Homo sapiens: one gene and its partners. The protein of the gene in region 1 interacts with the protein of each later gene in a pairwise test. Each region holds a gene or a part of one and is shown on either strand. Other genes may lie near its edges. The genes, in order: YWHAE, CDK16, RICTOR, KIAA0930, PLEKHA7, SORBS2 and PUM1.

What was found.
Region 2: the proteins of YWHAE (region 1) and CDK16 interact in binary tests that used the Homo sapiens proteins (3 or more experiments, as listed by UniProt).
Region 3: the proteins of YWHAE (region 1) and RICTOR interact in binary tests that used the Homo sapiens proteins (3 or more experiments, as listed by UniProt).
Region 4: the proteins of YWHAE (region 1) and KIAA0930 interact in binary tests that used the Homo sapiens proteins (3 or more experiments, as listed by UniProt).
Region 5: the proteins of YWHAE (region 1) and PLEKHA7 interact in binary tests that used the Homo sapiens proteins (3 or more experiments, as listed by UniProt).
Region 6: the proteins of YWHAE (region 1) and SORBS2 interact in binary tests that used the Homo sapiens proteins (3 or more experiments, as listed by UniProt).
Region 7: the proteins of YWHAE (region 1) and PUM1 interact in binary tests that used the Homo sapiens proteins (3 or more experiments, as listed by UniProt).

Annotation. Positions count from the first base shown.
Region 1 is NC_000017.11:1,393,723-1,397,222, forward strand, and holds part of YWHAE (14-3-3 protein epsilon), read right to left. Parts: intron 1-3,500. UniProt on the Homo sapiens protein: Adapter protein implicated in the regulation of a large spectrum of both general and specialized signaling pathways. Binds to a large number of partners, usually by recognition of a phosphoserine or phosphothreonine motif.
Region 2 is NC_000023.11:47,225,181-47,228,680, forward strand, and holds part of CDK16 (cyclin-dependent kinase 16), read left to right. Parts: intron 1-591; coding exon 592-686; intron 687-784; coding exon 785-847; intron 848-1,098; coding exon 1,099-1,222; intron 1,223-1,402; coding exon 1,403-1,523; intron 1,524-1,631; coding exon 1,632-1,729; intron 1,730-1,813; coding exon 1,814-1,919; intron 1,920-2,000; coding exon 2,001-2,043; intron 2,044-2,198; coding exon 2,199-2,289; intron 2,290-3,386; coding exon 3,387-3,464; intron 3,465-3,500. UniProt on the Homo sapiens protein: Protein kinase that plays a role in vesicle-mediated transport processes and exocytosis. Regulates GH1 release by brain neurons. Phosphorylates NSF, and thereby regulates NSF oligomerization. Required for normal spermatogenesis.
Region 3 is NC_000005.10:38,952,400-38,955,899, reverse strand, and holds part of RICTOR (rapamycin-insensitive companion of mTOR), read left to right. Parts: intron 1-195; coding exon 196-305; intron 306-1,038; coding exon 1,039-1,126; intron 1,127-2,346; coding exon 2,347-2,439; intron 2,440-2,808; coding exon 2,809-2,915; intron 2,916-3,474; coding exon 3,475-3,500. UniProt on the Homo sapiens protein: Component of the mechanistic target of rapamycin complex 2 (mTORC2), which transduces signals from growth factors to pathways involved in proliferation, cytoskeletal organization, lipogenesis and anabolic output.
Region 4 is NC_000022.11:45,230,895-45,234,394, forward strand, and holds part of KIAA0930 (uncharacterized protein KIAA0930), read right to left. Parts: intron 1-3,500.
Region 5 is NC_000011.10:17,007,915-17,011,414, forward strand, and holds part of PLEKHA7 (pleckstrin homology domain-containing family A member 7), read right to left. Parts: intron 1-3,500. UniProt on the Homo sapiens protein: Required for zonula adherens biogenesis and maintenance. Acts via its interaction with CAMSAP3, which anchors microtubules at their minus-ends to zonula adherens, leading to the recruitment of KIFC3 kinesin to the junctional site.
Region 6 is NC_000004.12:185,588,695-185,592,194, reverse strand, and holds part of SORBS2 (sorbin and SH3 domain-containing protein 2), read left to right. Parts: intron 1-118; exon of another isoform or gene 119-290; intron 291-2,409; coding exon 2,410-2,516; intron 2,517-2,965; exon of another isoform or gene 2,966-3,041; intron 3,042-3,500. UniProt on the Homo sapiens protein: Adapter protein that plays a role in the assembling of signaling complexes, being a link between ABL kinases and actin cytoskeleton. Can form complex with ABL1 and CBL, thus promoting ubiquitination and degradation of ABL1.
Region 7 is NC_000001.11:30,950,718-30,954,217, forward strand, and holds part of PUM1 (pumilio homolog 1), read right to left. Parts: intron 3,265-3,500; coding exon 2,997-3,264; intron 1,647-2,996; coding exon 1,517-1,646; intron 1-1,516. UniProt on the Homo sapiens protein: Sequence-specific RNA-binding protein that acts as a post-transcriptional repressor by binding the 3'-UTR of mRNA targets.

The DNA of each region.
Region 1 (3,500 bases):
GAACCCGGCTGGGGCTTTTCTTTTTTTGGTTGTTTTTTTCTTTTGCTTAAAGAGGTGACATCTGCCTACAATAAATCATGTTTTTTAAGAATCTGTATGCGAATAAACATTCTGAGAGTACCTAAACTTCACCTCATTTTAATTTCGCTGTGCCTTGAGATGGGATTTTATCTCTGAAAAAAACCATCAGGTTTCTTTAGGAAAGTGAAAAGATTTTGTCTACAATTCACCATGGATATCAGTCATCACAAACATCAAGATGTGAAGTAGATGCTATTAGAATTGTTAAAGAACAAGCATCAAGCATACGCTACTCACCCCCTACTCCCCTGAAAGGCACCACCTTACTTCACAGAGGTCTTTTGAGTGGCTGAGAGTAAGTGTACCGATCTAAAGGTCAGCAGACACTAAGTTCTGGCTTTACCATTTAATAACTGATTAGCCACATGATCATAAAAAAATCTCTCTCTCAAACTCACTTTCTTGAACCAGAAAATGGGAGTAACGCTCTACCTGCTTCAATCTTGTTACATAAATTAAAAACTTTTGTCAACGTGGGCTGTGAACTGAGGTACTGCATAATGTCATATACACATATGTAAAGTTTAGGCCAGAAGCAGTGACTCACACCTGTAATCCCAGCACTTTGGGAGGCCAAGGTGGGAGTCCAGGAATTCAAGACCAGCCTGGGCAACATAGAGACCTCAAATCCACAAAAAAAAAAAAAAAAAAAAAAAAACACAAAAATTAGGCCGGTGCAACAGTCCCAGCTACTAGGGAAGCTGAGGCAGGAGGGTCACTGGAACTCAGGAGGTCGAGCCTGCAGTAAGCTATAATGGCGACACTGCACTTCAGCCTGGGTCACAAAGCAAGACCCTGTTTCAAAAAAAAATTTTTTTTTAATTTAGCCTTCCCATAAATACATACACCTAATATGTGCCCATTAAAAAATTAAAAATTTAGGCCAGGTACAGTGGCTCATACCTGTAATGCTAGCCCTTTGGGAGGCTGAGGCGGGAGGATCACCTGAGGTCAGGAGTCAGAGATCAGCCTGGCAAACATGGTGAAACCCCATCTCTACTAAAAATACAAAAATTAGCCAGGTGCGATGGCGGGCGCCTGTAGTCCCAGCTACTCGGGAAGCAGAGGCAGGAGAATCGCTTGAACCCAGGGGGCAGAGGCTGCAGTGAGCCGAGATCCTACCACTACACTCCACCCTAGGTGACAGAGCAAGACTGTCTCAAAAAAATAAATAAAAATAAAACTGCAGCCTTTACTCCATGCTTGTCATTACTGTTTGTGTACACAGTGTTCTTGAAATATAAAGAAAAAATATGCCTGCAGTATCAGTCACCCTTACAGTCATCCATGAAAAAAAAAAACAATCAGGCCGGGTGTGGTGGCTCACGCCTGTAATTCCAACACTTTGGGAGGCCGAGGCAGGCAGATCACCTGAGGTCAGGAGTTCAAGACCAGCCTGGCAAACATGGTAAAACCCTGTCTCTACCAAAAACACAAAAATTGGCTGGGTGCGGTGGCTCACACCTGTAATCCCAGCAGTTTGGGAGGCTGAGGTGGGCAGATCACCTGAGATCAGGAGATAAAGACCATCCTGGCCAACATGGTGAAACCTCGTCTCTACTAAAAATACAAAAAATTAGCCGAGTGTGGTGGCACGCGCCTGTAGTCCCAGCTACTTGGGAGGCTGAGCCAGGAGAACCGCTTGAACCTGGGAGGCGGAGGTTGCAGTGAGCCAAGACCACGCCATTGCACTCCAGCCTGGGGGACAGAGCCCAGTCGTAGAAGGGATTTTTAACACTACGTTACTCAGTTCTGTCTATGCATTTAAGAAGGAGAAAAATAAACTTTACTCCAGAAAGTTAGTCCATTAACTGAAACGGCAATGGAAAATTACTGGCCTACAGTCAAAGAACTGGTAGTTAATCTAAATACTTCTAAACTTATTAACAACGTTAATTTACTACTACCTATTTTTTTCCTAACAAGACCGTAGTAAAAAGTTCATTCCACACATGCTCCCTTCCCTGTTCTTCACTAACTAGCAGAATAAGCTAGCTAGAGATGAGGATCTGGTGTTTTAAAAGGACAGCTCTCAGCGGGCTCAGTGGCTCACGCCTGTAACCCCAGCACTCTGGGAGGCCGAGGCGGGCGGATCACCTGAGGTCAGGAGTTCGAGATCAGCCTGGCCAACATGGCGAAACCCCATCTCTACTAAAAATACAAAATTAGCCTGGCATAGTGGCGGATGCCTGTAATCCCAGCTACTCTTGGAGGCTGAGGCAGGAGAATCGCTTGAACCCAGGGGATGGAGGTTGCAGTGAGCCGAGATCGCGCTATTGCACTACAGCCTGGGCGACAAGAGCAAGACTCCGTCTCAAAAAAAAGACAGCTCTTGACCAGGCGCGGTGGCTCAGGTCCTTAATGTCAGCACTTTGGGAGACTGAGGTGGGCGGATCACCTGAGGTCGGGAGTTCGAGACCAGCCTGACCAACATGGAGAAACCGTGTCTCTACTAAAAAAGAAATACAAAATTAGCATGGCATGGTGGCACATGCCTGTAGTCCCAGCTACTCGGGAGGGTGAGGCAGGAGAATCGCTTGAACCCTGGAGGCGGAGGTTGCAGTGGGCCGAGATTGTGCCACTTCAATAAAGCCTGGGAGACAGAGCGAGACTCCGTCTCAAAAGAAAAAAAAGACAGCTCTCAAGTAAATGACTCAACAGATGCATTCCTAGGGAATCCAACATGACCATCAAAACTTCATCCTACCTTCCATGAAGCCAATCTTGATAGGGAAGAGACTAGGAAAGGACAAAACCAACAACAGCCCCACAAGCCCAAATGTAGTTTATGTTACCCCTCTGCTCCCCAAAAACGGGTAAACTTTTCCCCTCTATATTCCCCGTTTTTTATTGTTGCTGTTGCCCAGGATGGAGTGCAATGGCGCAATCTCGGCTCACCGCAACCTCGGCCTCCCGGGTTCAAGTGATTCTCCTGCCTCCGCCTCCCAAGTAGCTGGGATTACAGGCACCCACCACCCCCGGCTAATTTTGTATTTTTACTACAGACGGGGTTTCTCCATGTTGGTCAGGCTGGTCTCGAACTTCTGACTTCAGGTGATCCACCCGCCTTGGCCTCCCAAAGTACTGGGATTACAGGCATGAGCCACCGCACCTGGCCTCTTTTTTTTTTTTTTGGAGACAAGAGTCTCGCTCTGTTGCCCAGGCTGTAGTGTAATGCCATAATCCTGGTTCACTACAACCTTCACCTCCCGGGTTCAAGTGATTCTTCCACCTCAACCTCCTCAGTAGCTATGCCCGGATAATTTTTTTATTTTTGTAGAGACAGGGTTTCACCATGTTGGCCAGGCTGGTCTTGAACTCCCGACCTCAGGTGATCCACCCGCCTCGACCTCCCAAGGTGCTGGGATTACAGGCGTGAGCCACCCCGCCCGGCCTTTCTTCCCCACTTTCTTGTACTA
Region 2 (3,500 bases), on another chromosome or scaffold:
TGGTTCTAAGACCCCCCAAAACACTCTGGCTTTCATGGGAATGCCTGTCACCCACATATCCAGGTAATAATCAGGGTAACCAGGAATCTGTTCCCATTTGGATAAAAGGTAGATGAATTGCAAACCAGGGTTTGGTTCTGAGAACACCCCTGAAAGTGCTCACCAGTTTATTTACTGTAACAATTTCTAGTCAGAATATCACATGGAATGAATTTGAATTGCACTGAAATTTAGTGTGCAAATTCGATTTCACGCGATGCTGCAGGCCTATGTACTGAGGGTTGGAGCCAGGCCCCTTCCCAGAAACCAAAAACAGGTTGTGAAAATCTAGTGTCACATGAGCCTGGGGCTGCAATCCCAGGTTCTTGCTCCATACTCTCCTCTGAGTCTTATTTTCCACATCTGCAACATGGAGACACAACTTTCTTCTGGCATGAGGCGGGTTAGAGCTGGTGGCTCCGAGGCATTACCCTGAACTGTCTAGAGAAAGAAAGAAAACCTGGGCTTGTCCCTTTCTAGTCCTTGTCCTCACCTCTGTCCTGAGGGTAGGACCCTGACTCTTCCCCTGTCCCACTCCCATGCTTCCTGCAGTGTCCCTGCTCAAGGACCTCAAACACGCCAACATCGTTACGCTACATGACATTATCCACACGGAGAAGTCCCTCACCCTTGTCTTTGAGTACCTGGTAAGGTTGAGTGGCAGTAGGTCCCAGGGGGAGGTGAGGAGAAGGCCAGGAGCCATAGGAAGTAACCCTCATTCCTGTACCACCTCTTCTTTCCTCAGGACAAGGACCTGAAGCAGTACCTGGATGACTGTGGGAACATCATCAACATGCACAACGTGAAAGTGGGTGTGGGGCAGGAAGCAGGGGCACAAGGGGGCCCCCACTCACCCACTCCAACCCACAAATCTCCCAGAAACGGACTTTTCCCTTTGGCTTTTTTTGCTAGGAGCCCTTGGAGGGCACTGGGACCCTGTCCTCTTTTGTGTGACAAGGCTCTGGGCCTAGTGTCTGTGTTTGGGAGGGGAGCAGTGCCTGCTGGGGGTCGGGCTAGTGGATAGTCTTTGACCTCTGCCTGCCATTCCTGGGTCCCCAGCTGTTCCTGTTCCAGCTGCTCCGTGGCCTGGCCTACTGCCACCGGCAGAAGGTGCTACACCGAGACCTCAAGCCCCAGAACCTGCTCATCAACGAGAGGGGAGAGCTCAAGCTGGCTGACTTTGGTACCACTGGCCTCCCCTTTCTTATTGGCTCCCCAGCCTCCTACTTTCCCATGACCACTTAGTCTCACTTCCCTTCAGCCTTGCCAGATTTTGCCTAGGACACCCTCAGTCTCAACTGCACTCTCCCCGAGACTTTGCCCATGACTCCCTCATTCTAGCTGTCCTTTCTCTGATTTCCAGGCCTGGCCCGAGCCAAGTCAATCCCAACAAAGACATACTCCAATGAGGTGGTGACACTGTGGTACCGGCCCCCTGACATCCTGCTTGGGTCCACGGACTACTCCACTCAGATTGACATGTGGTAAGGACAGGTGGAAGTGTGGCAGGGGCCATGTGGTAAAGGGGGTGGCTTGGTCACAACAGCCACCCAGCCAGCTGCCTTTCTATTCACTGTGCCCTCCCTGCCCAGGGGTGTGGGCTGCATCTTCTATGAGATGGCCACAGGCCGTCCCCTCTTTCCGGGCTCCACGGTGGAGGAACAGCTACACTTCATCTTCCGTATCTTAGGTGAGGAGGCATGGGCCCTAGGCGCTGTGGAGACACACGGGGAGGACCTGTGAAATGTTTGGGATAACTCCTCTTCCCTACTAGGAACCCCAACTGAGGAGACGTGGCCAGGCATCCTGTCCAACGAGGAGTTCAAGACATACAACTACCCCAAGTACCGAGCCGAGGCCCTTTTGAGCCACGCACCCCGGTGAGGCTGGTGGGTGGGTGGGCGTTAGGGGCCAGAGTGTCCAAACTCATTTTAAATCAGGTCTCTTTGTCCTTGTGGCAGACTTGATAGCGACGGGGCCGACCTCCTCACCAAGCTGTTGCAGGTGAGACCACCTTGGGTCAGCCTTGGGGGTATGGGATTCCAAGTGTGGGGAAACAGGGACCCCCCCCCTCAAACCAGGGGCAGGGTCTGAGGTGGGCAGAGAGACCTACTTGTTGAAGATATCAATACTATCCCCCTCCCCGCACCCCCACTCAGTTTGAGGGTCGAAATCGGATCTCCGCAGAGGATGCCATGAAACATCCATTCTTCCTCAGTCTGGGGGAGCGGATCCACAAACTTCCTGACAGTGAGTGGAGCTGGGGAATGGACCGGCCAGCGTGGGGACTGGGAAACAGGACTGCTGGGGCCAGCTGGCGGGTTGTGTAGGATTCTGGCTGTGCCACCTCTACGTGGGGGGACATCTTGTTCACGTGTGTGATGGGTTGTATTTGTTATGAAAACATTTTTTAGTTTTCAGTTCCTTTTACCTTTCATGAAAAATTTAAAACATACATAAAAATATATGCAATAGCACTTTACTTTTTTTAAAGTAGACATTTCCTTACATGTGCTAAAAAATGCACAAATCATAAGTATACTATACAATGAATTTTCATAAATGAAACACATCCTTGTAACTAGCACAAAAGTCAAGAAACAGAATGTTAAAAGCTCCCCACCCCCAGCTCCCTTGCATCTCCTTCAGTTATTCCCAGCCCCTTCCCAAAGGGTGGCCACTGTTTTGACCTCTAACAGCAAGGATAAGTTTTTTCTGTCCTTGTACTTTATAGAAATAGAATCACATGTGATGTTCTTTTTATATCTGGCTTTTAAAAACTTTTTAATATGGATATTTTCAAATATATGTATTTATATATTAGTCAAAGTAATATGATGAGTCCCTAAGTACTCCAGTGAGTCATCAATTCATGGTCAATCTGGTTTTATCTATATTCTCTCTGATTATTTTGAATCACATCCAATCCCAGACATCATAGCATTTATCCTTAAATAATTTCAGCATATACCTATAAAAGATTTTTTTAAAACAACAATATTATTATCAAACCTACAAAAAACATTTGCTCACTTTCCCTATCTTCCCACTGGATTAATATATAAAGCAAACCCCAAACACCACCCATCACCTAGACTTAACAGGTGGTAATTGCAATACCATAATTCACTTGACAAAGTTAATAATGATTTCTTTGTGTCATGTAATAGTCTATATTTCATCTTCCCTGGTTGTAGCTGGTTTGTGTATGGAATTGTTTGACAGATAAAGGTCAAGCCTCTCAGAGAAGGGGCAGCTTTTTCTAATTCTTCCCATGGGGTCATATGGGGCTGGTCCTAGATGACCTCATGGGTCATCCCCCACTTCTATGTCTCCCCCATCTGTAGCTACTTCCATATTTGCACTAAAGGAGATTCAGCTACAAAAGGAGGCCAGCCTTCGGTCTTCGTCGATGCCTGACTCAGGTAGGTATAGCCCCTTGTCTTCCTCCCTGCCCCACC
Region 3 (3,500 bases), on another chromosome or scaffold:
GTGAGGAAAATGGCAGATATGGGGGTCATTAGTATATAGTACTAGTTGAAACCTGAGCCAAAAGCTTATGGATATGATAGAACATTTGCATTCATAATACCTTGATCTGTCTACCCTTTGCTAAGTATCTGACATATTTTAAATTTAGTGACTCATTGTGATACTATGTGCAATTAAAACAATATTATCCTCTAGGAATACAACTCCAAATATGTTGACTTGATTGAGGAACAACTCAATGAAGCACTTACTACTTACCGGAAGCCTGTTGATGGTGATAACTATGTTCGTCGGAGTAACCAAAGGTGCGTACCCAGTTATCAGATTTAAAACTAGTTCATCATAAATTATTTTTAACATTTCTGAGTTTTTGTATATTCTGCTTCTAACATGATATAGGAAGAATCTTAATGCGCAGCATTAATTGCTCAAAAATTCAGTGGCATTCATGGCATGTTGAATATCCTTACTGATAACGCATTCACATATACTCCATGCTGGCACCCCAGTCTGTATTTCTAGGCCTAGATTCTCTTACCAGTACTTTGAGCTCTGATAAACTGTTACAGGTTGAACATCACTTATCCAAAATGATGAAATGTTTCGCATTTCAGATTTTTTCAGATTTGGAATATTTGCATATATATAACGAGATACCTTGGGAATGGTACCCAAGTCTAAACATGAAATTAATCTGTTTCATATACGCCTTATACACGTAGCCTAAACATAATTTTATGCAGTGTTATAAGTAATTTTCTGTATGAAATAGTTTGCATTAAATACTAATGTGTGGAATTTTCCACTTACAGTGTCATGTCAGTGCTCAAAAAGTTTTGGATTTTGGATCATTTTGGATTAGGGAAGCCCAGCCTATATTTTACCTGAGAAATCCTCATTCCTTGTTACTTTCATATTTTTATTTATGCTGGAGAGTTGTATCTAATTTTATTTATCAAACATTTATTAAAATTCTTTTGTTCTAATTAGCATATTTAAATTAGCCAAGAGATATAGTAATCATCTTTATTATACTAGATTACAGCGTCCTCACGTCTACCTGCCTATACACCTTTATGGACAACTAGTACACCATAAAACAGGCTGCCATTTGTTGGAAGTACAGGTAAAAACATAATTCACTTATTTTAAGTAGCTACAATAGTAAAAAAAAAACAAAATCTTAACATTGCTAAAATATTACCTTTGCAAAAACTTCTCAAAAGCTTTAATATCAGTGGTGTAATTGCTTTTAAATTCATCTATTTTGTAATTGACTTAGGCATTCTATATTTATTAACCTGAGAAATATTAATGGCCTTGCAATGCATTAACTGACTTGTGTATGACTTTTTGAATAACTAACTTGTTATGTAGAGTAAGCAATCCAATGAAGATCTGAGTTCTTTTTTTAGAGTTTAGTGGAGAAATTCAGATCTCCAAAAACGTACTGAAAAACCGAGTTTTTCTTCCACTCATTGGGAAATTAAACTGAACCTAATACAGATTAAGTTATCCTTGTTGAGCAATAAATTGAAAGTTGCTGGTTGTGAGCACATTTTATTCTCGCGTACTTCATGGAATGTTAACAAGCATAGGCAAGCAGTTGTTCTTTGAGTTATAATATGTACACCGCATTTATGGTTGTGAATATGTCATGCAACTGTTTCCAATAAATGTAACGTTTCTCTTATTTTAGAAATAAAGTTATAGGAATATTTGTTTTTGTGACAGAACAATAGTTATTTAACAATTTAGTTCCCGATTGTATCAGTATTCATCTCAAGAGCACAAAGTTTTGCATAAATGTACTCTATAGTTTCATGTGTTTTTATATTACGTCTGTGAAAACTGTTGGGACAAGTATTTTCATATTAACATTTGAAAATTTCACTAAAAATTTAAATGATTTTCTCAGTGTTACTACTTACATAGTATGATAAAACCTAAGCACTAATTTACTTTCTGTTTTAAAGAATAAGTATGATTATTTAGTAATACTAAGTGCCAAGTACTTTGGTAAGCACTGTATGTGCAATAATTTATTAAATCTTGAAACCTTATGATGCAAATGTTATTATCACTCTTCTAGATATTAGGAAATCAAAGGATGAGGAGATGAAGTAACTTGCCCAAGGCCATGCAGTTAATAAGTGATAATTCTAGAATGTGAATTCAGAACCCCTGCCCTATGCTGCTTCTCAAGAAATTTTACATAAAATTATTTAGAATTTAAATATGCAAAAATGACAAAAAACAAACGTTATACTGGTTTTATGATGCAATAATAATATATTAAATACATAAATATATTATTACTCATGGTATTTTTTTTTCTTTCTCCAGAATATTATTACAGAACTCTGTCGTAATGTTCGTACACCAGATTTGGATAAGTGGGAAGAAATTAAAAAACTGAAAGCATCTCTTTGGGCCTTGGTTTGTAATAAACACTTCTGTAAGATCTTCGCAATTTTTAGATTTTTAAGTTTTTTTTTCATTTATACTAAATAGATAAATATTTTCTTTGGAACTACTTATTAGATTAATATTTAAGACTGGATTGTTCCTGCCAATATAAGTGTATTATCTCTATGTTGAAGAATAGATGGTTGAACTATTGGTTTCATGACTTTTGTTTTGTTGCTAAGACAACTAGAATTAATTCATGCCTAATGTTTTGTACTTGAGGAGGCTTTTACATTTTTTCTCTCTCAGAGATGAGGTTAAATTTGTTTCTTGGTAGCTTTCCAAATCTTTTGAAAGAGTGACTCTTATATTTGATGTAAGTGATTTCTTTTCTTTCAGGGAAATATCGGCTCATCAAATTGGGGTCTCAATTTGCTACAGGAAGAAAACGTGATTCCAGATATACTAAAACTTGCAAAACAGTGTGAAGTTCTTTCCATCAGAGGGTAGGTCATTTAACTCAGAAATCTTTCTAATGTAGACGTTGTTATTCACAAATGGATGTTAGGGGAAAGTATTTTATGATTAAGTGCAATGCATAACTGTTAATCCACTGAAAGTTCTAATGATACAAGATTATTAACTGTATTAAGTTAAACATCTAAACGAACTCCTTGTTTACTACTATAATTTGATTTTTATTATATTGAAGTTTACCTTGTAGGTAACAGGTAAGGCATAGTGTTGTACAGATACTCCAGTATTCCTGTAACCCAGCTGTTCCAGATTTATACTAGAAAAGCTAATATACCTTTTTTGCTCATGTTGCATTGTGTTCTTTTTATTTTGTTGTAATTACTATTTTTATTGGGAAGGTTTGCTTGTTTTTTATTGCTGCTAATTTATTCCTGACTAGTCTTAATAAGTTTTTTTTTTTCCACAAACGCAACCATTTTGGTGGGTTTTAGAGAAAGTTCAAAGTATGTATAGCAAATTAATCTGTGGTGGCTTTAAGAAATCTCAGCTTGGAATTATAACTGTTTTTACTGCATCTTTTATATACAGGACCTGTGTATATGTACTTGGGCTCA
Region 4 (3,500 bases), on another chromosome or scaffold:
TATCCAGTCAGACTCCTCCACAATGACCCACTTCTTTATCAAACCTAGCATAGAAAATAAACAGGTTGAGGCTGGGCACGGTGCCTCAACATACCTGTAATCCCAGCACTTTGGGAGACTGAGGCAGATGGATCACCTGAGGCCAGGAGTTCAAGACCAGCCTGACCAACATGGTGAAACCCCATCTCTCTACTAAAAATACATAAAAATCAGCCAGGCATGGTGGTGGCCGCCTATAATCCCAGCTACTCAGGAAGCCGAGGCAGGAGAATCGCTTGAACCCAGGAGGCAGAGGTTGCAGTGAGCCAAGATCTGAGACTCCGTCTCAGAAAAAAAAAAAAAAAAAGAAAGAAAATACACAGGTTGAGCCCATTTCTTTGGATTTTCACTTCCTTATGAAGGCTCCTGTATCATGTAAAACTTACACTAAATTATACTTTTCTCTCTTCTGCCTTTTGTTATAGGAACCTCAGCCATGAACCTAAGATGGGAAGAAAGATAGTTTTCACCTCCTACATTGGCAGTGGGGCCTGAAGATCCGAGGGATGTCTGGGCTTGTCCCAGCGATGTGTGTGAACAGGATACAGAGGCAGGGGTGGGAAGCCAGAGGCATGAACAATCAGCCTGTACCTGCCTGCCACCACCCCCTCCCCAGGGAGGGCCAAGCTCCCAAGAGTCAGATCAACCCTAATTCAGCACTGCATTTCCAGGGTTCAATATATATGACCTCCACAAATGACACAATGGTGACTACAAATACATAAAAATGTACACTCAGACAGGGGTAAAAACTGCAGAGAAGGTAAGAAATTAACAGGCACACCAGGCGCAGTGGCTTATGCCTGTAATCCCAGCACTTTGGGAGGCCGAGGCAGGTGGATCACAAGGTCAGGAGATCAAGACCATCCTAACATGGTGAAACCCCGTCTCTACTAAAAATACGAAAAATTAGCTGGTGTGGTGGCGGGTGCCTGTAGTCCCAGCTACTCGGGAGGCTGAGGCAGGAGAATGGCGTGAACCTGGGAGGCGGAGCTTGCAGTGAGCCGAGATCGCGCCACTGCACTACAGCCTGGGTGACAGAGCGAGACTCCCTCTCAAAACAAACAAACAAAATTAACAGGCACAAGGGTCTTGAATGGCTGTTGTTGCTGGAAAGGTGCCTATGAAGCAAGGTTTCAGAAAGAACCAGAAGGGAGAAGCCTAGTCCAAGGCCACCTCACCCCAGGTCCACCTATCACTCTGAGGCCTGGTCCCCCTCTGTAAATGGGACAACACCCCTCCTGCCTTCTGCTCAGCACTGCTGTGAGGACACACGAGGGTGTGCAGGGCAGCACTTCTCTATTATAATTACATGGATAATCCACACGCTTCATAACATGTGGATTTGTATTCTGCTTTTCTCCCTTTCTCTGCCATAAGTGTTGCTCCAAGTGTGAAAAGCATTTTTCAAGATTCAAAGCACATCCCAATACAAAGCCCTTTTACATTAAAGATAATGGACACGTGGAGTAAGGGAACTCTGCCTGTTGTTCACCTGCCTCGGTCTCCTCACTTGCACCACGGGGCAAGAGGCAGCACTGGTGAGATCAGGCAGCCAGCCCTCCTGATTCTTCACCCTGTTTGAGACAGTCGGGGTCCACTCTGAGTCTCCCCTGTCTGTGTCAGTGATAGGGCTAGGCTGGTTGAATTCTGGGACTCTCTCCATCCCAGCTCCCCCAGGACGGGCTGTGACCCAGAGGGCATTCTGCTGCCTCAGCCGAAACTGGGACACTGGGAGCAAACTGCCCCCCTACCTTGGGAGGGTAGAGCTCATCAGGCACAGGAAGCCTGGAGTCACATCTTCTCCCAGGAGAATGCCCATCCTGCAGAGTGGGCTGGGTGGGGACCGGCTCCAGGGGAGGCTGGCCCACCGCCTCTCCATGTGGTGGGGCTGAGCCAGGGCTCTGTATGTGACCTCAGCCTCCGTTTCCCTGATGTGCAGAGTTCGGCTTTGACTCAGGGGCACAGGTATCTCTGGGGGTGAGGAAGGGACCCCGTGGAGTGTTAATTTTCCCACCCACCCCCGCCAGGTGTCAATGTCGATGACATTAAGGTTCATGCTGTTGGGGCTCAGGTGGATCCAAGGACAGGTGGCTGGGAGCAGGCCAGATCAGGAAGGTGGAGGAAGGCATCACAGCCAGTCCCTCCTGCTTCTGAGCCTCAGTGGCCCCATCTATCACATGGGGGCAGGGGTGGTAAACAGACAGCCCAGTGGCCACCAACTCAGGCTGACACACCCAGACAGAGGGAACGAATGAATTACACCACAGACTCCAGGGCCCCCCAGGAGGACTTTCACTCAGATGCCCAGGTCGGGGGAAGGAATGGGCATTTTGTTTTAAAGTTCCCCAGGGTTCTGTGCTCTGGACACGGTGTGGTACAGGGTGGGCAGACTGAGGCAGGCGAGGTGTTCTAAGGAGTGGAGGCTGAGGTTCAAGTGGAACGGGTAAGCACAGGTGCTAGGCCGAGTTCCCCAGCACAGGCCACGCAGGGCATGCAGCCCCACTTCCAAGGAGTCGGTAGGCCTGGGTGGGAAAGCTCCCCTCAGCACAGCAGCCACAGCCATAAAGGCCCAGAGGCGGGCATCACCTGGAAAGTGGGAAATCACATCCAGTCAAAACACGCTTCTACTTCAGCTGCAGAACAGCCCGGGTGCCCACCCGGGTGGCAGGACCTTCACTAGGCTGACTCACCAGGGGACCTGGTGGCTGCTCTCAGGACGCTGGGAGGGTGGGCAGGACAGCCGGGTTTGGGTGATAGGCAGTGAGCTCTGCCCTCTTAGGAAGCTGAGTGCACCAGACCCAAGCTGCTGGAAATGACCGAGGGAAGGTCTACTCAACCCTCTGAGCCTCTGCTTCATCCCTGTAAGACACGGGCTAACTCCTACCTGACAGGGGTTATGATATTAGATGACGTATTGTTTACAAGTCCCGCTTGGCCCTGCCTAGCCCAGCACCGCATGCAGGAGGGATCAGAGGTCCAGAGGGACAAGGGCCTCCAGAAGACAGAAGAGCGGGGCTGGGGCTGCACAGGAGCTGCAGCTATGCACCAGGGCTTCCCCAATCCCACAGAACCCTTAGCGGGAGAGCCTGGACTGGGGCTTGCAGAGCTCCTGTCTACAGCAGTGACAGGGAGAGGCTGGTTGAATTCTGAGACCCGGGGGCCTTGGCAGAGGCCGGGCACATGTACTGACCCTGAGGGGCAAACGTCTCTGTTGTCTCTGAGGCCCGGCAAGCTGGGGTGGCCTGCAGTGAGGGGTGACCAGGAGTGGAAGGTCAGTGTGCGTGTGGGTGCCGTTGGGGAGCTGGCCTGGCCTGTGCTCAGGGCTCAGCTCCCAGGCCTCATGGTCCTCCGATGGGGAAGAGGGGGCCTCTGCTTCCTGCTCGGGGAAGACAAGCCTGAAACGCCAGGGGGAGAGCTCTCAGGTAAGAAGACAAGGTTGGAGGATCACAGACTGGCAA
Region 5 (3,500 bases), on another chromosome or scaffold:
CCATTAAAAGTAATAGCACTAACCGCAATTACATTTGCACCAAGCTAATACTTTTTCCTTCTTTTTCAATAAGGAGCCTTGCATTTTCATTTTACACTGAGGCTCTGCAAATTATGTAGCCAGTCCTGCCCCTAGGACCTGCTTCAGGTCCTAGGGGAGGGGAAAGTTAGCCTTACTCCAAGCCTCAGAAATGTCTTTCCCAGAGTCTAGCTGTCCTCACTTGGGGACAGGCACCCACAAGAAGAAAGTACCTACACAGGGTGGCTCCACACAACCCCAAAGCTAAAACTGAGAAACCTGAAGCTAGAAAGGGTCTTGTGCAATCAGCTGGTTCCTGCCAGCACCCTTGTGCCAAGTCACAGATGATGCCAAGGGCCCAGCAGCCAGGGAAGGAAGACAGCCTAGTCCAGTAGCCAACAGGTATCCCAGTCCCAGATGCAGAGCAATAAGGATATGAAATGAAGACGCAGAGGAGGCCGTTTGAGCCTCCACCAGCCAGCTTCCTGCTTTGAGCATTGTTCTCAACAGCAAGCGACTGTATCCAAGAAGCCTGGGTCTAGGCACCAGCCTTGACAGGCCTGTTCCTGGCTGTTGAGCTTCTCTCACCTTGCTTATTCTCCTCCACCCCAATCTCCTTCCCAGTAAGGAGTTTTCCAAGACCTGGAATACCTAGAAAACTCATTGGGTCTCTTTAAAACACTGATTCCTCAAGAGATGCCAAGTGCCTACTCAGCTCCCAGCCCTGGGCTGGGTGCCTAAGTCACAGAAGTGGGGAATAAGATGCCTGCCTTCAAGGAACAGCCTTGGCACAGGCAAGGTGGCTGAGCCCCTCTTCTCTGCCATCTCCTCATTGCCTCATGACCTATTTAATGCCTGCTGTAGGGGGAACGGAATTCACAAGGTTCCATGAAACCCCTGAAGAGCAGCCCAGTGTAATACTCTAACTCCCATGGCCTCTTCTAGAAACTTCTCCCTCATAGGTCCCATGTTTGAAAAAGCTGTGTCTGCCAAATTGTATTTACTAATAATCAATGTCTTCAATTTCTTACTAATCAGAGACATGTACCACCCCTAATCAACATAGGAGACCAGGGGGTACTGCCCTTCCAAAGTACCTCAATCCCCAGAAAAAGCAAAGATGGAGTCTGGCCCCATAAGCCTTGGGGAAGCCTAACTCAGAGCAATGGCATATGGGCATTCATCTCCTTCAAGATGCATGGCCTGGGGTAGGAGCTACCACTACTACTGTGGCTATCACATGAGGGACCAAAGACCTATGTTCCAGTCCCAGCTCTAACACTTCAGCAAAATCATTGAACCTTCATGGACCTGAGTTTCATCATCTGAAGAATGGGGATGATTCTTCCCCTCCTGCCTCCAGGGGCTGCTATAAGGATCAAATAAGAAAAGACACAAGAAAAAAAACCATCTGCTATAGGAATGTCCAGGATTACGGCAAGATTCTATGTCTGTAAAACGAAACTAGTAGTAGTTCCTACCTCATCAAACTATTGTGAGAATTAAATCAATGACAGTTACAGAACAGTTCCTAGCATTTTTCAAAGACCCAAAAAGATTAGGCTGTTATATAATTATTACTACTATTATTGCTACTTCTGTTAATGACACTATTATCACAATTACTATTATACCTTGCTACCCAGCTAAGGGATTCATAGTAGAGAAGTGCTAGAGTACAAAAAGTCTTCGTTTTATTTATTTATTTATTTATTTATTTACAGACAGGGTCTCACTCTGTCATCCAGGCTGGAGTACAGTATCACAATCATAGCTCATGGTAAACTCAGACTCCTGGGCTCAAGCAATCCTCACACTTAAGCCTCTCAAGTTGCTAGGATTACAGGAGCATACCACCATTAATTTTTTCATTTTTTGTACAGATGAGGCCTCTCCGTGTTGCCCAGGCTGATCTTGAACTCCTGGCCTCAAGTGATCCCCTCGCCTCCGCCTCCCAAAGTGTGGAATTGCAGGCATGAGCCACTATACCCAGCCAAAAAATCTTTTTAAAGGGGTTATCAACATCACTTAGTCTAGAACTGGGAGAACCAACAGTAGATTTCTTATACATTTTGTCCCTCATTAATGCAAAATTGAACAAAAAGTGCAGAAATCAAAACAAAAATTCACCTGCCTAACCTCAAGCTTTTCTGCTTCAAGAAATGGACTCCGAGGCCAGGCACAGTGGCTCATGCCTGTAATCCGAGCACTTTGGGAGGCTGAGGCAGGCGGATCACTTCAGGTCAGGAGTTTGAGACCAGCCTGGCCAACATGGTGAAACCCTGTCTCTACTAAAAATGCAAAAATTAGCCAGTCATGGTTGTGCACACCTGTAGTCCCAGCTACTTAGGGGGTGGCCGAGGCATGAGAATCACTTGAACCCAAGAGGCAGAGGTTGCAGTGAGCTGAGATCGTGCCACTGCACTCCAGCCTGGGCGACAGAGCAAAGCTGTCTTTAAAAAAAAAAAGAAAGAAAAAGAAAAGAAAGAAAAGAAATGGACTCTGGAGAGTATTAAAACATTTGCTGGCCAGGCATGGTGGCCTGCATTTGTAGTTCCAGCTACTTGGGAGGCTGAAGTGAGAGGATCACTTGGCCCCAGGAGTTCAAGGCTGCAGTGAGCTATGATTGCACCACTGCACTCCAGACTAGGAGACAGAGGAAGATTCTGTTTCTTAAAATTTTTTCAAAAATTAAAATGTTTTAATCTGCTAAATATGAGGAGCAACTGAATACATCCTGTAAAACCTCACACAACTTTCCTGTGCAAGGAGCCATTAGGAAAAATAAAATCAGCCATGTCAATGCTTTGTCGCTCTCACTTTATGAGCCAGATTAGAGGAGGCTCCTGCCCTCAACACAAAAATCAAACATTCAGAAATGCTCACGGCAAAGCTAAGAAATCAGACAACAGTAAAACATTTTTCATGTGGGGGGCGGGGGATGAGGGAGAGAACAATTACTCCCAAAACCCTTAAGTCTCTCAAAAAATTGTCACAGAAGGACGTCAGAAGTACAATCACCTGCCACAGGGCCCTGCCTTTGAGGGTAGGGAACACTGTCACACATTGCTTTTTCTAGGCCTGGGAGGAGTCAGCCAAGGCCCTGGGGGCACAGGAGCTCACTGTAGGAAAATCATTAGGGACCTCACAGACAAGTTACCATGGAAGAGTCAGCAAAGGTGTGGAAGGCTGTGCTCCAGCCTCCAGAGTCCCACACGCGGCCTCACACACCCAGCCCAAGGCTGCACCTGGTACTTTGGGACACTTGCAGCCCTTCCTCCCGCCAAATGAATGATGGGCCCTGCCCCTGGGTGACGCTAGTGAGATGCAGGCCATGGATCCCATCCCTCTCACCTTCTTAGAAACACTGCTCCAGCAACTGCCCCGTCTCTTTACTGCAGCATCGACTTCTTCCTCTCAGTGGGATCATTCCCATCAAAACAAACATGCTGTACAATCTCCCACCAAAAAAAAGAACCCTC
Region 6 (3,500 bases), on another chromosome or scaffold:
GAAATATGTTCTAGAAAAAGTTGCAAGTTATCGAGAGGGCTTCCAGTCTGGCTCAGCATTTCCTGTTTAAAAGACACCTTTCTTTTTGAGGCATCCTTACCCCACCACCATCACTCACCTCACCAACACATCTTTCACAACAGCATTTTTTAACATTGGATTTGTCTTCATTTCCCATTGTGCAACACTGGCTTTGAAAGCCAGGAGAGGCAGGAGGATTTCCTGAAGGTGTGTTTACGTTTCCATAAAACTCCGTGGGTTTTCTTTTGTTTTGTTTTTGTTTCTGTGGTCTAATTAAACCAGAATGGTAAATAAATTTGGACAAACATGCTGGCTTTCATCAGACAAAAATGAAGCAGGAGTCTGTGCCAATTTTGTTGCGTTAGCTCTGAGACCTTGAGATTCTTTCCAGCAGCTGAGGTTTGCAGCCTTAGGTAACCGGTCTCCATGAGTGGGTGGAGATGAGCCTGGGCAGGGTTCAAGCCTGAGAAGCTCAATAAAAGAATCAGTTTTCCCAAAGTGAGAAATGCCGTGTGTATCCATCAAAACAGCAGCCCAGGAACCACCATCTCTCTCAAATGTGAAACTGGAAAAGGGACCGTGAACTTTCCCCACAGATACACAAAAGATACCACCCCTTCACCTGAGCAGCCTCCAAATCAAATTCTTTACACAAGCAACAAAATAAATGGACTACCCCTAGCAAAGCTGGCCACATGCAAACATCCAAATCAGGTGACGTTTCTGTATTCCACACCTGCCTGTCTTTTTGGCCACTACTCTGGGATGCTAGCTGCCTTTCTCTGCCCTTCCCCATAATCACAAACCCCTCTCTCAAGAAAAGGCCTCAGAAGCCCATGCTCAAAAGGATATAAGTGGCTGTAAGGTCTACTGGAAGGATGAAGTTTTAACAGGAGAAGAAGCCTCTAATGTTGAAATTTCAGGCTTTGGTGCCAGGCCAGGGAAAACAATATTTTCTAGGGGATGTTGTTAGGCATTCTCTGAAGCCAACTCTATCCAGCTCCCCCAGTCCAAATGCTGGATGAACGGGGGGAAGCCAGTAGGTCACTGTTGCTTATTAATGACATAAGATTTGAGTTTAAATGATAGAATAGTTTTGTTCTACCAAAATATTATTTTCTGACTCATAAAGTAATTAAAAATAAATCATTCTTGTTCCGGAGCGGTAGTCAAGATTATCAACTTTTTTAAGTTGGCATGAAAAAATCTAAAATACCCTAGAAAGTGGTAATTATTTTCTCACATTAGCAGAATGACATGACTGTTACAGAAAGCAGCAGAAACAAATTCCCAATTTTTAAAAACCCCCTCACAGTACTGGTAATATTTTAGTACTATTATGAAGAAGTTTTCATGTTAACTGCCTATCAAATTCTTCTTGACCTTCTCAGCTACAGTAATTTCGCCTTCATTTTCCAAAAACACCAGCCCATGTTACTATTTATTATAATGTATGGTGTTTTCTTACCACAAATTCAGTGTCTGAATTCATTATTGATCAATTTCCACCACAGTATATGCTGTCAAAGAATTCAGGCCGGGAAAGGAAAGTGATAGCATTCTATCAATAATTCTTTTTTATATAAAATTATTTCAAGAGAGAGTTTTAAAATCAAATACAATTTTTCTGGGACTCATTTTAAAAAGAGACTTATGTCCATAGTCTGCTTGAAATGGAATCAGTAATAACTGCACATAGAATACATCTACTCAACTTCATAGGCTAATTACATCAAATCTTCCAATTCTACATCCTCAGAAAACACTGATCCAAACCATAACATTAAACTGATCTAAAGAATTCCTCTTAGTAAAAAAAATAATTTTCCTTTGTATAGTAATTCACACAGAGTGATTAAAAAGACATGTCTGACACATTTTGTCTATCTCCATTTAGAACCTTTGAAAATTCAATTCTCAAGCCCCCATTATTTGCTTCTGATTATGGCTAGCTAAAATTGTGATTCCTTCTTGTTTTTAAACAGTTAAATAATACAAATATCACTTATTTTATATTTTGTACTATTATTTAATGTCTAAATGATAGACGTTAGATGGCTGGACAACTGAAATGCGGGTCTGACTTATACATGTTGACATATTTTAATCCAATTTATGAATGTTACAATTTTCATGGATATTCCTCGTGAGTTTCAAAATGTTGTTAGAGTGTTCTAATGCCTGTGAAGATCTACATATTGCTATGTACCTGCTTACCAGGCTTGTACCATCCAATAGAATGCTATTTACATGCTTACCAGGCTTGTACCACCCAACAGAATGTTGTTAAGAATAGGAATGTTAAAGGAAGAATGAATATTGTTCTATCTTCTATATTTCATGAAGGTGTCAAGATGTTTTTAAACACATTCCCTTGTCCTGTTTAAGGTTTCAGGCTCTGTATAACTATACTCCCAGGAATGAAGATGAGCTGGAGCTCAGAGAAAGTGATGTCATTGATGTCATGGAAAAGTGTGATGACGGCTGGTTTGTGGGTATGTGCGCTTCTTCCTCAGGCACCTTCGGCTATTTTGTAATTTGCTTGAGTTTGCTCACTCCCGTGGTTTGCTGTGATGGCCGAGCTTCCTTTGAATTCGTAATGCCTTTGATCTTTCAGACATTCATATGCACAATGTAATCCCAAGGCTATTGCATTTTTAATATAGTTTAGTATTCACTGCTTCAGCTATGTGTGATTTTCTGCGAGCTTTATTTCCAACTCAACTGAGAGAAGACAATTTCTTTAAATAGCAAAAACCAGGAAAGATTGAGATCTAAGAACAACAACAACAAATGGTCCCCAGAAGAGAAATATCAACGCTCTGTGCTGTGGAAAATGTTAGTTGTCCACAGTGAGAATCTAATTTCAGAGGGAGTGAGATTAAGTGAACAGCTCTCCCGTTTCCTAGGTCTGACGTAGATGCCCGAACATTCAGTGACTCACCTTAACTTTAGTTTGTGGTGGAAGCAGAGAGACGTTCCATTCTTCCCACTTAAAAGGCAACTTCATCTTTACCATCCTAAAAAAAAAGACGAGAGGTCTTCTGGGAAAACATTTGTAGACAAAAGTATTTTACACTGGGCCACAGAAAGAGGTGAAAAGGAAACACAGGCTGCAGGGCAGAGAATGGAAGAGAGGAAAGGTGAGAGGAGAGGAGGGCTCACTCTAGACATCCATCGGTGGCAAAATCATGAAAGAATTGAGGCCCTGGTGCGGCCACAAGCCTCTGATTTTATTTCCATTAAAAGAAGAAAAAAAGGCCGGGTGCGGTGGCTCATGCCTGTAATTCTAGCACTTTGGGAGGCCGAGGCGGGTGGATTACCTGAGGCCAGGAGTTCGAGGCCAGCCTGGTCAACATGGTGAAACCCCGTATCTACCAAAAGTACAATAATCAGCTGGGCTTGGTGGCAGGTGCCTGTAATCCCAGCCACTCAGGAGGCTAAGGCAGGAGAATTGCTTGAACCCAAGAGGCAGAGGT
Region 7 (3,500 bases), on another chromosome or scaffold:
GGCATGGTGGCACGCTCCTGTTAACTCCAGCTACTCCGGAGGCTGAGGCAGGAGAATCGCTTGAACCCAGGCGGCAGAGGTTACAGTGAGCTGAGATAGCACCACTACACTCCAGCCTGCCCAATGGAGCAAGACTGTGTGTCAAAAAAAAGAATCCTACACTCTTACTGCCAAAGCACACATGGACACACTGTTTTGAAATAGTATTCTACATCATTAAGAGAATTGATTTTTTTTTCTCCTATTTACACAAGGTAACAGAGTTGGGAGGGGAAAAATCAGTAGAATCAAGAAGTGAGGCTACACAATGTTAAAATTCTACTTAGAATGATTTTCCATCCTTGGCTTATTATTTTCATTTCAATCACATAATCGTGAGATTGGAGGAGACTTTATGAATTCTCAGCCCATCCAACCTCCTCATTCTCCCAAGGGAAACTAAGATCCAGAGAAGTTCTCAAGCTTGGTCCAAATCATATGGCTATAATCCATTGTACATTTTGTCACCCCAAGGTGCATCAGCCTCCAGAACTAGAAAGCTCAGTATTTTTATATATGTGACAAAACGGCAGTGCAAAGTCATTCTAAAATCAAAAATACAAAAGTCATGTTTAGATTGGTTTCTTAGTCCAAAGCTGAAGAATTCAGGGTGAAAAAACATAAGTCTTCATGAAAAAACTTGGGAAGGTAAAACTTGAGTACGTCAGTTTTTCATCTTCATACAAATCAAACAGGATGAGATGTTAAGACATTTACAAATTTGTTTTGTGGTAGGTAATGTGCAGAATTCCAGCATTTTCCTCCCCATACCAGACTCCTCCTCATCTCGAAGTTTTGTGCCATTCTGCATCTACACCTTAGGGTTGCCAATACCAGATAATAAGGGCTACAATGGTAAGCAAAAAAGTCCCTGCCTCTCTGAAATTTTACCTCACTAGAGGGAAAAGACATCAACCTAACAATCTCATTCTTTCCAAAGACAATGATACAACAAGTGAACATTATTCAAATTAACAGAAGTAAAACAAGAAATCAAGGCCAAACGATCAGCCAAGAAGCAGCATTTAACAATTCTTGTGACCCTAGCTGATAATGAAACATACTGGAGTCGGTGTCCAAAGACAATTCTCTAAGAACCTTAGAAAAATTTGTTTTTGGCAATATTTTATTGTGATCCTGCTAAAACTACTTTACAAGGATTATTTCCTCCTTAAGTGACACGTTTTGTGAAACTATTATAACAATCTGAAATAATGTGCTGGGTCCTAAATGGGGACACCAGTTTTCGAAACACATTTCCAAAATAGATTGGCATTATCTGCTCGGATATTTAAACCATACAGAATAGATAGACTGCTGCTAATGAATTGGAAAAACACTAAAAACCTCTTCAAAAAGACCACACACCCTTCATTCTGAGGACTGGAATGGGACTGCTATGCTTAAAAAGGCTAATGAAAATCAAAATGCTCTGCAGATTCTCTTAAGTCAAAGGATAGAAAGAACAAAGGCTTACTTCAAAGAACTTCTGAATGACGTAATTACCAAACACATCCACCATGAGTTGGTAGGCAGCCTGGAGGATTTCATTGAAGACAAGCTGGCGCTCAGCTGGTGTGGCACGCTCCAGTTTCAGCTGAATGAATCTGAAGTACAAAGTAAAAAGGGCAATCACAGCACTGAAGGAAGACCTGGAGATACATCAGTGTACCTCGGTTTATAGACTGCATCCGTTCTGAAACATGTGAGTGAGCATGTGTGCACACACATGCACACAATAAACCAAACTTTATTTGAATGAATCACTTGAACTCCCTTGAAGAGTTTTTAAATAGAGGAAGAAGGTCCTAACTTAATTGAGCTTTGAAAATTACATATAAATGTTGGCACATTTCATTCCAGTAGGGCATGCATACTGAATCTTATTTATGTGCAAGGTGGGAGGGAAGATGAAAGCGGGGGGGGCGGGGGGGGGGCGGGAGGGGCAGGGGTGCAGGAAGAGAGGAGGGGTGGAGGGAGACATAACACAACATGTACCCTACTTGACTTTTTTCCTTTAGAAACCAGCCTCACATCAATGAACTCAAAGCTTACAGTCCTTACTATATTCTTTAACTTATTTTCATATAAAACAGTACTCATCAGCTACTCGGGAGGCTGAAGCAGGAGAATGGCGTGAACCCGGGAGGCAGAGCTTGCAATGAGCCAAGATTGCGCCACTGCACTCCAGCCTGGGCGACAGAGCAAGACTCTGTCTCAAAAAAACAAAACAAAACAAAACAAAACAAAAAAACAAAAACAAAACAGTATTCATTATCTTCTGAAGTAGTAACAGTCTGCCTTTTTTTAGTCCAAATGACCACTATCAGGAAAATCATGTTGCCTCTGAATCTAGCCTATAGAATTCAAATATGAGAAATTTTGGCCCAGTAGCAAGCTGGCAGAACTTAAGGAGGAGGTAGCTTCTGTAGAAACTGTTTCACTGGACACAGTATCAGAGAAAGAAACAGAAACAGAAATGGGAAAGAAGGATGGGTGTTGTCACCATAATTATGCTCTATCCCCAGGACCAGATTCGCTTTCTGTGAAGCCCACTGCAGCAGCCCAACAGGAAGGGGTAAACCAAACCAAATTCTGTCTTCTATAATAGTTTCTTCTCTCGTCTCTACATAGACTGTCACTTCTACAGAGTGGAACAACAAAGAAAGGTGGTAGAGCTGTCTTACTCCTCAGCACCCTAGATCAAACTTGTATTTGAATAGCAACTCTTTGAGAGCAAAAGATTCTTCATAATGCTTAAAGCAGCCGAAGTGTATGTATGTCTTTGTGTTCATGTTTGTTTCTTAAATCCCTATGAAATAATGTGATGCAAACTAAGAGGCACGCTTTTAAAAAATTACTATATGGCAATTTATTTAAGTAGATACCCATCTGAGCCAAGACAGTTAAGGCATTACAATTTCGGGTACCTTAAAGTGCCAAAGCCAAGTACTCACCTGGACCCATGCTGGTCTTGGGAAAATTCCATTATATGTCCAGCAATCTCCCGCAGTTGTAAATTGGGGTACCGGTTGTTTCGAAAATCTTCCAAAAGCCTGCTCCTGCCAGAAGGCATGACATCAGACATTCCATATCGCAAACGAGAGGAAGAGAAAAGAGTGCTGCTCGGGCTGAAGAGGCTGGAGGCGCTGCTTGCACTGCGGTACTTGGCTTCAGCGCCTGGAGCAGCAGAGATGTATCTTCCACTGCCATTCGTGAGTCCTCCTGTTGGTTACAGAACAGGATAACTTAAGACCACTCTTCAGCAACTTCATTCAAGAGAGAAAAAAGCATTCCCACACCCGAAAGCCTGCACCATTTCTGATTTCTTCAATGCTGTTGTTTTTGTGTCAAGACAATTCTATTAGCGTCATGACTTTCGTGGGTCAACTCAACAACCTGGAAGGAAACTTTTGCACAAAGATTGAGAAGGGAATGCTTTTACCGTTGATGGTAGACTG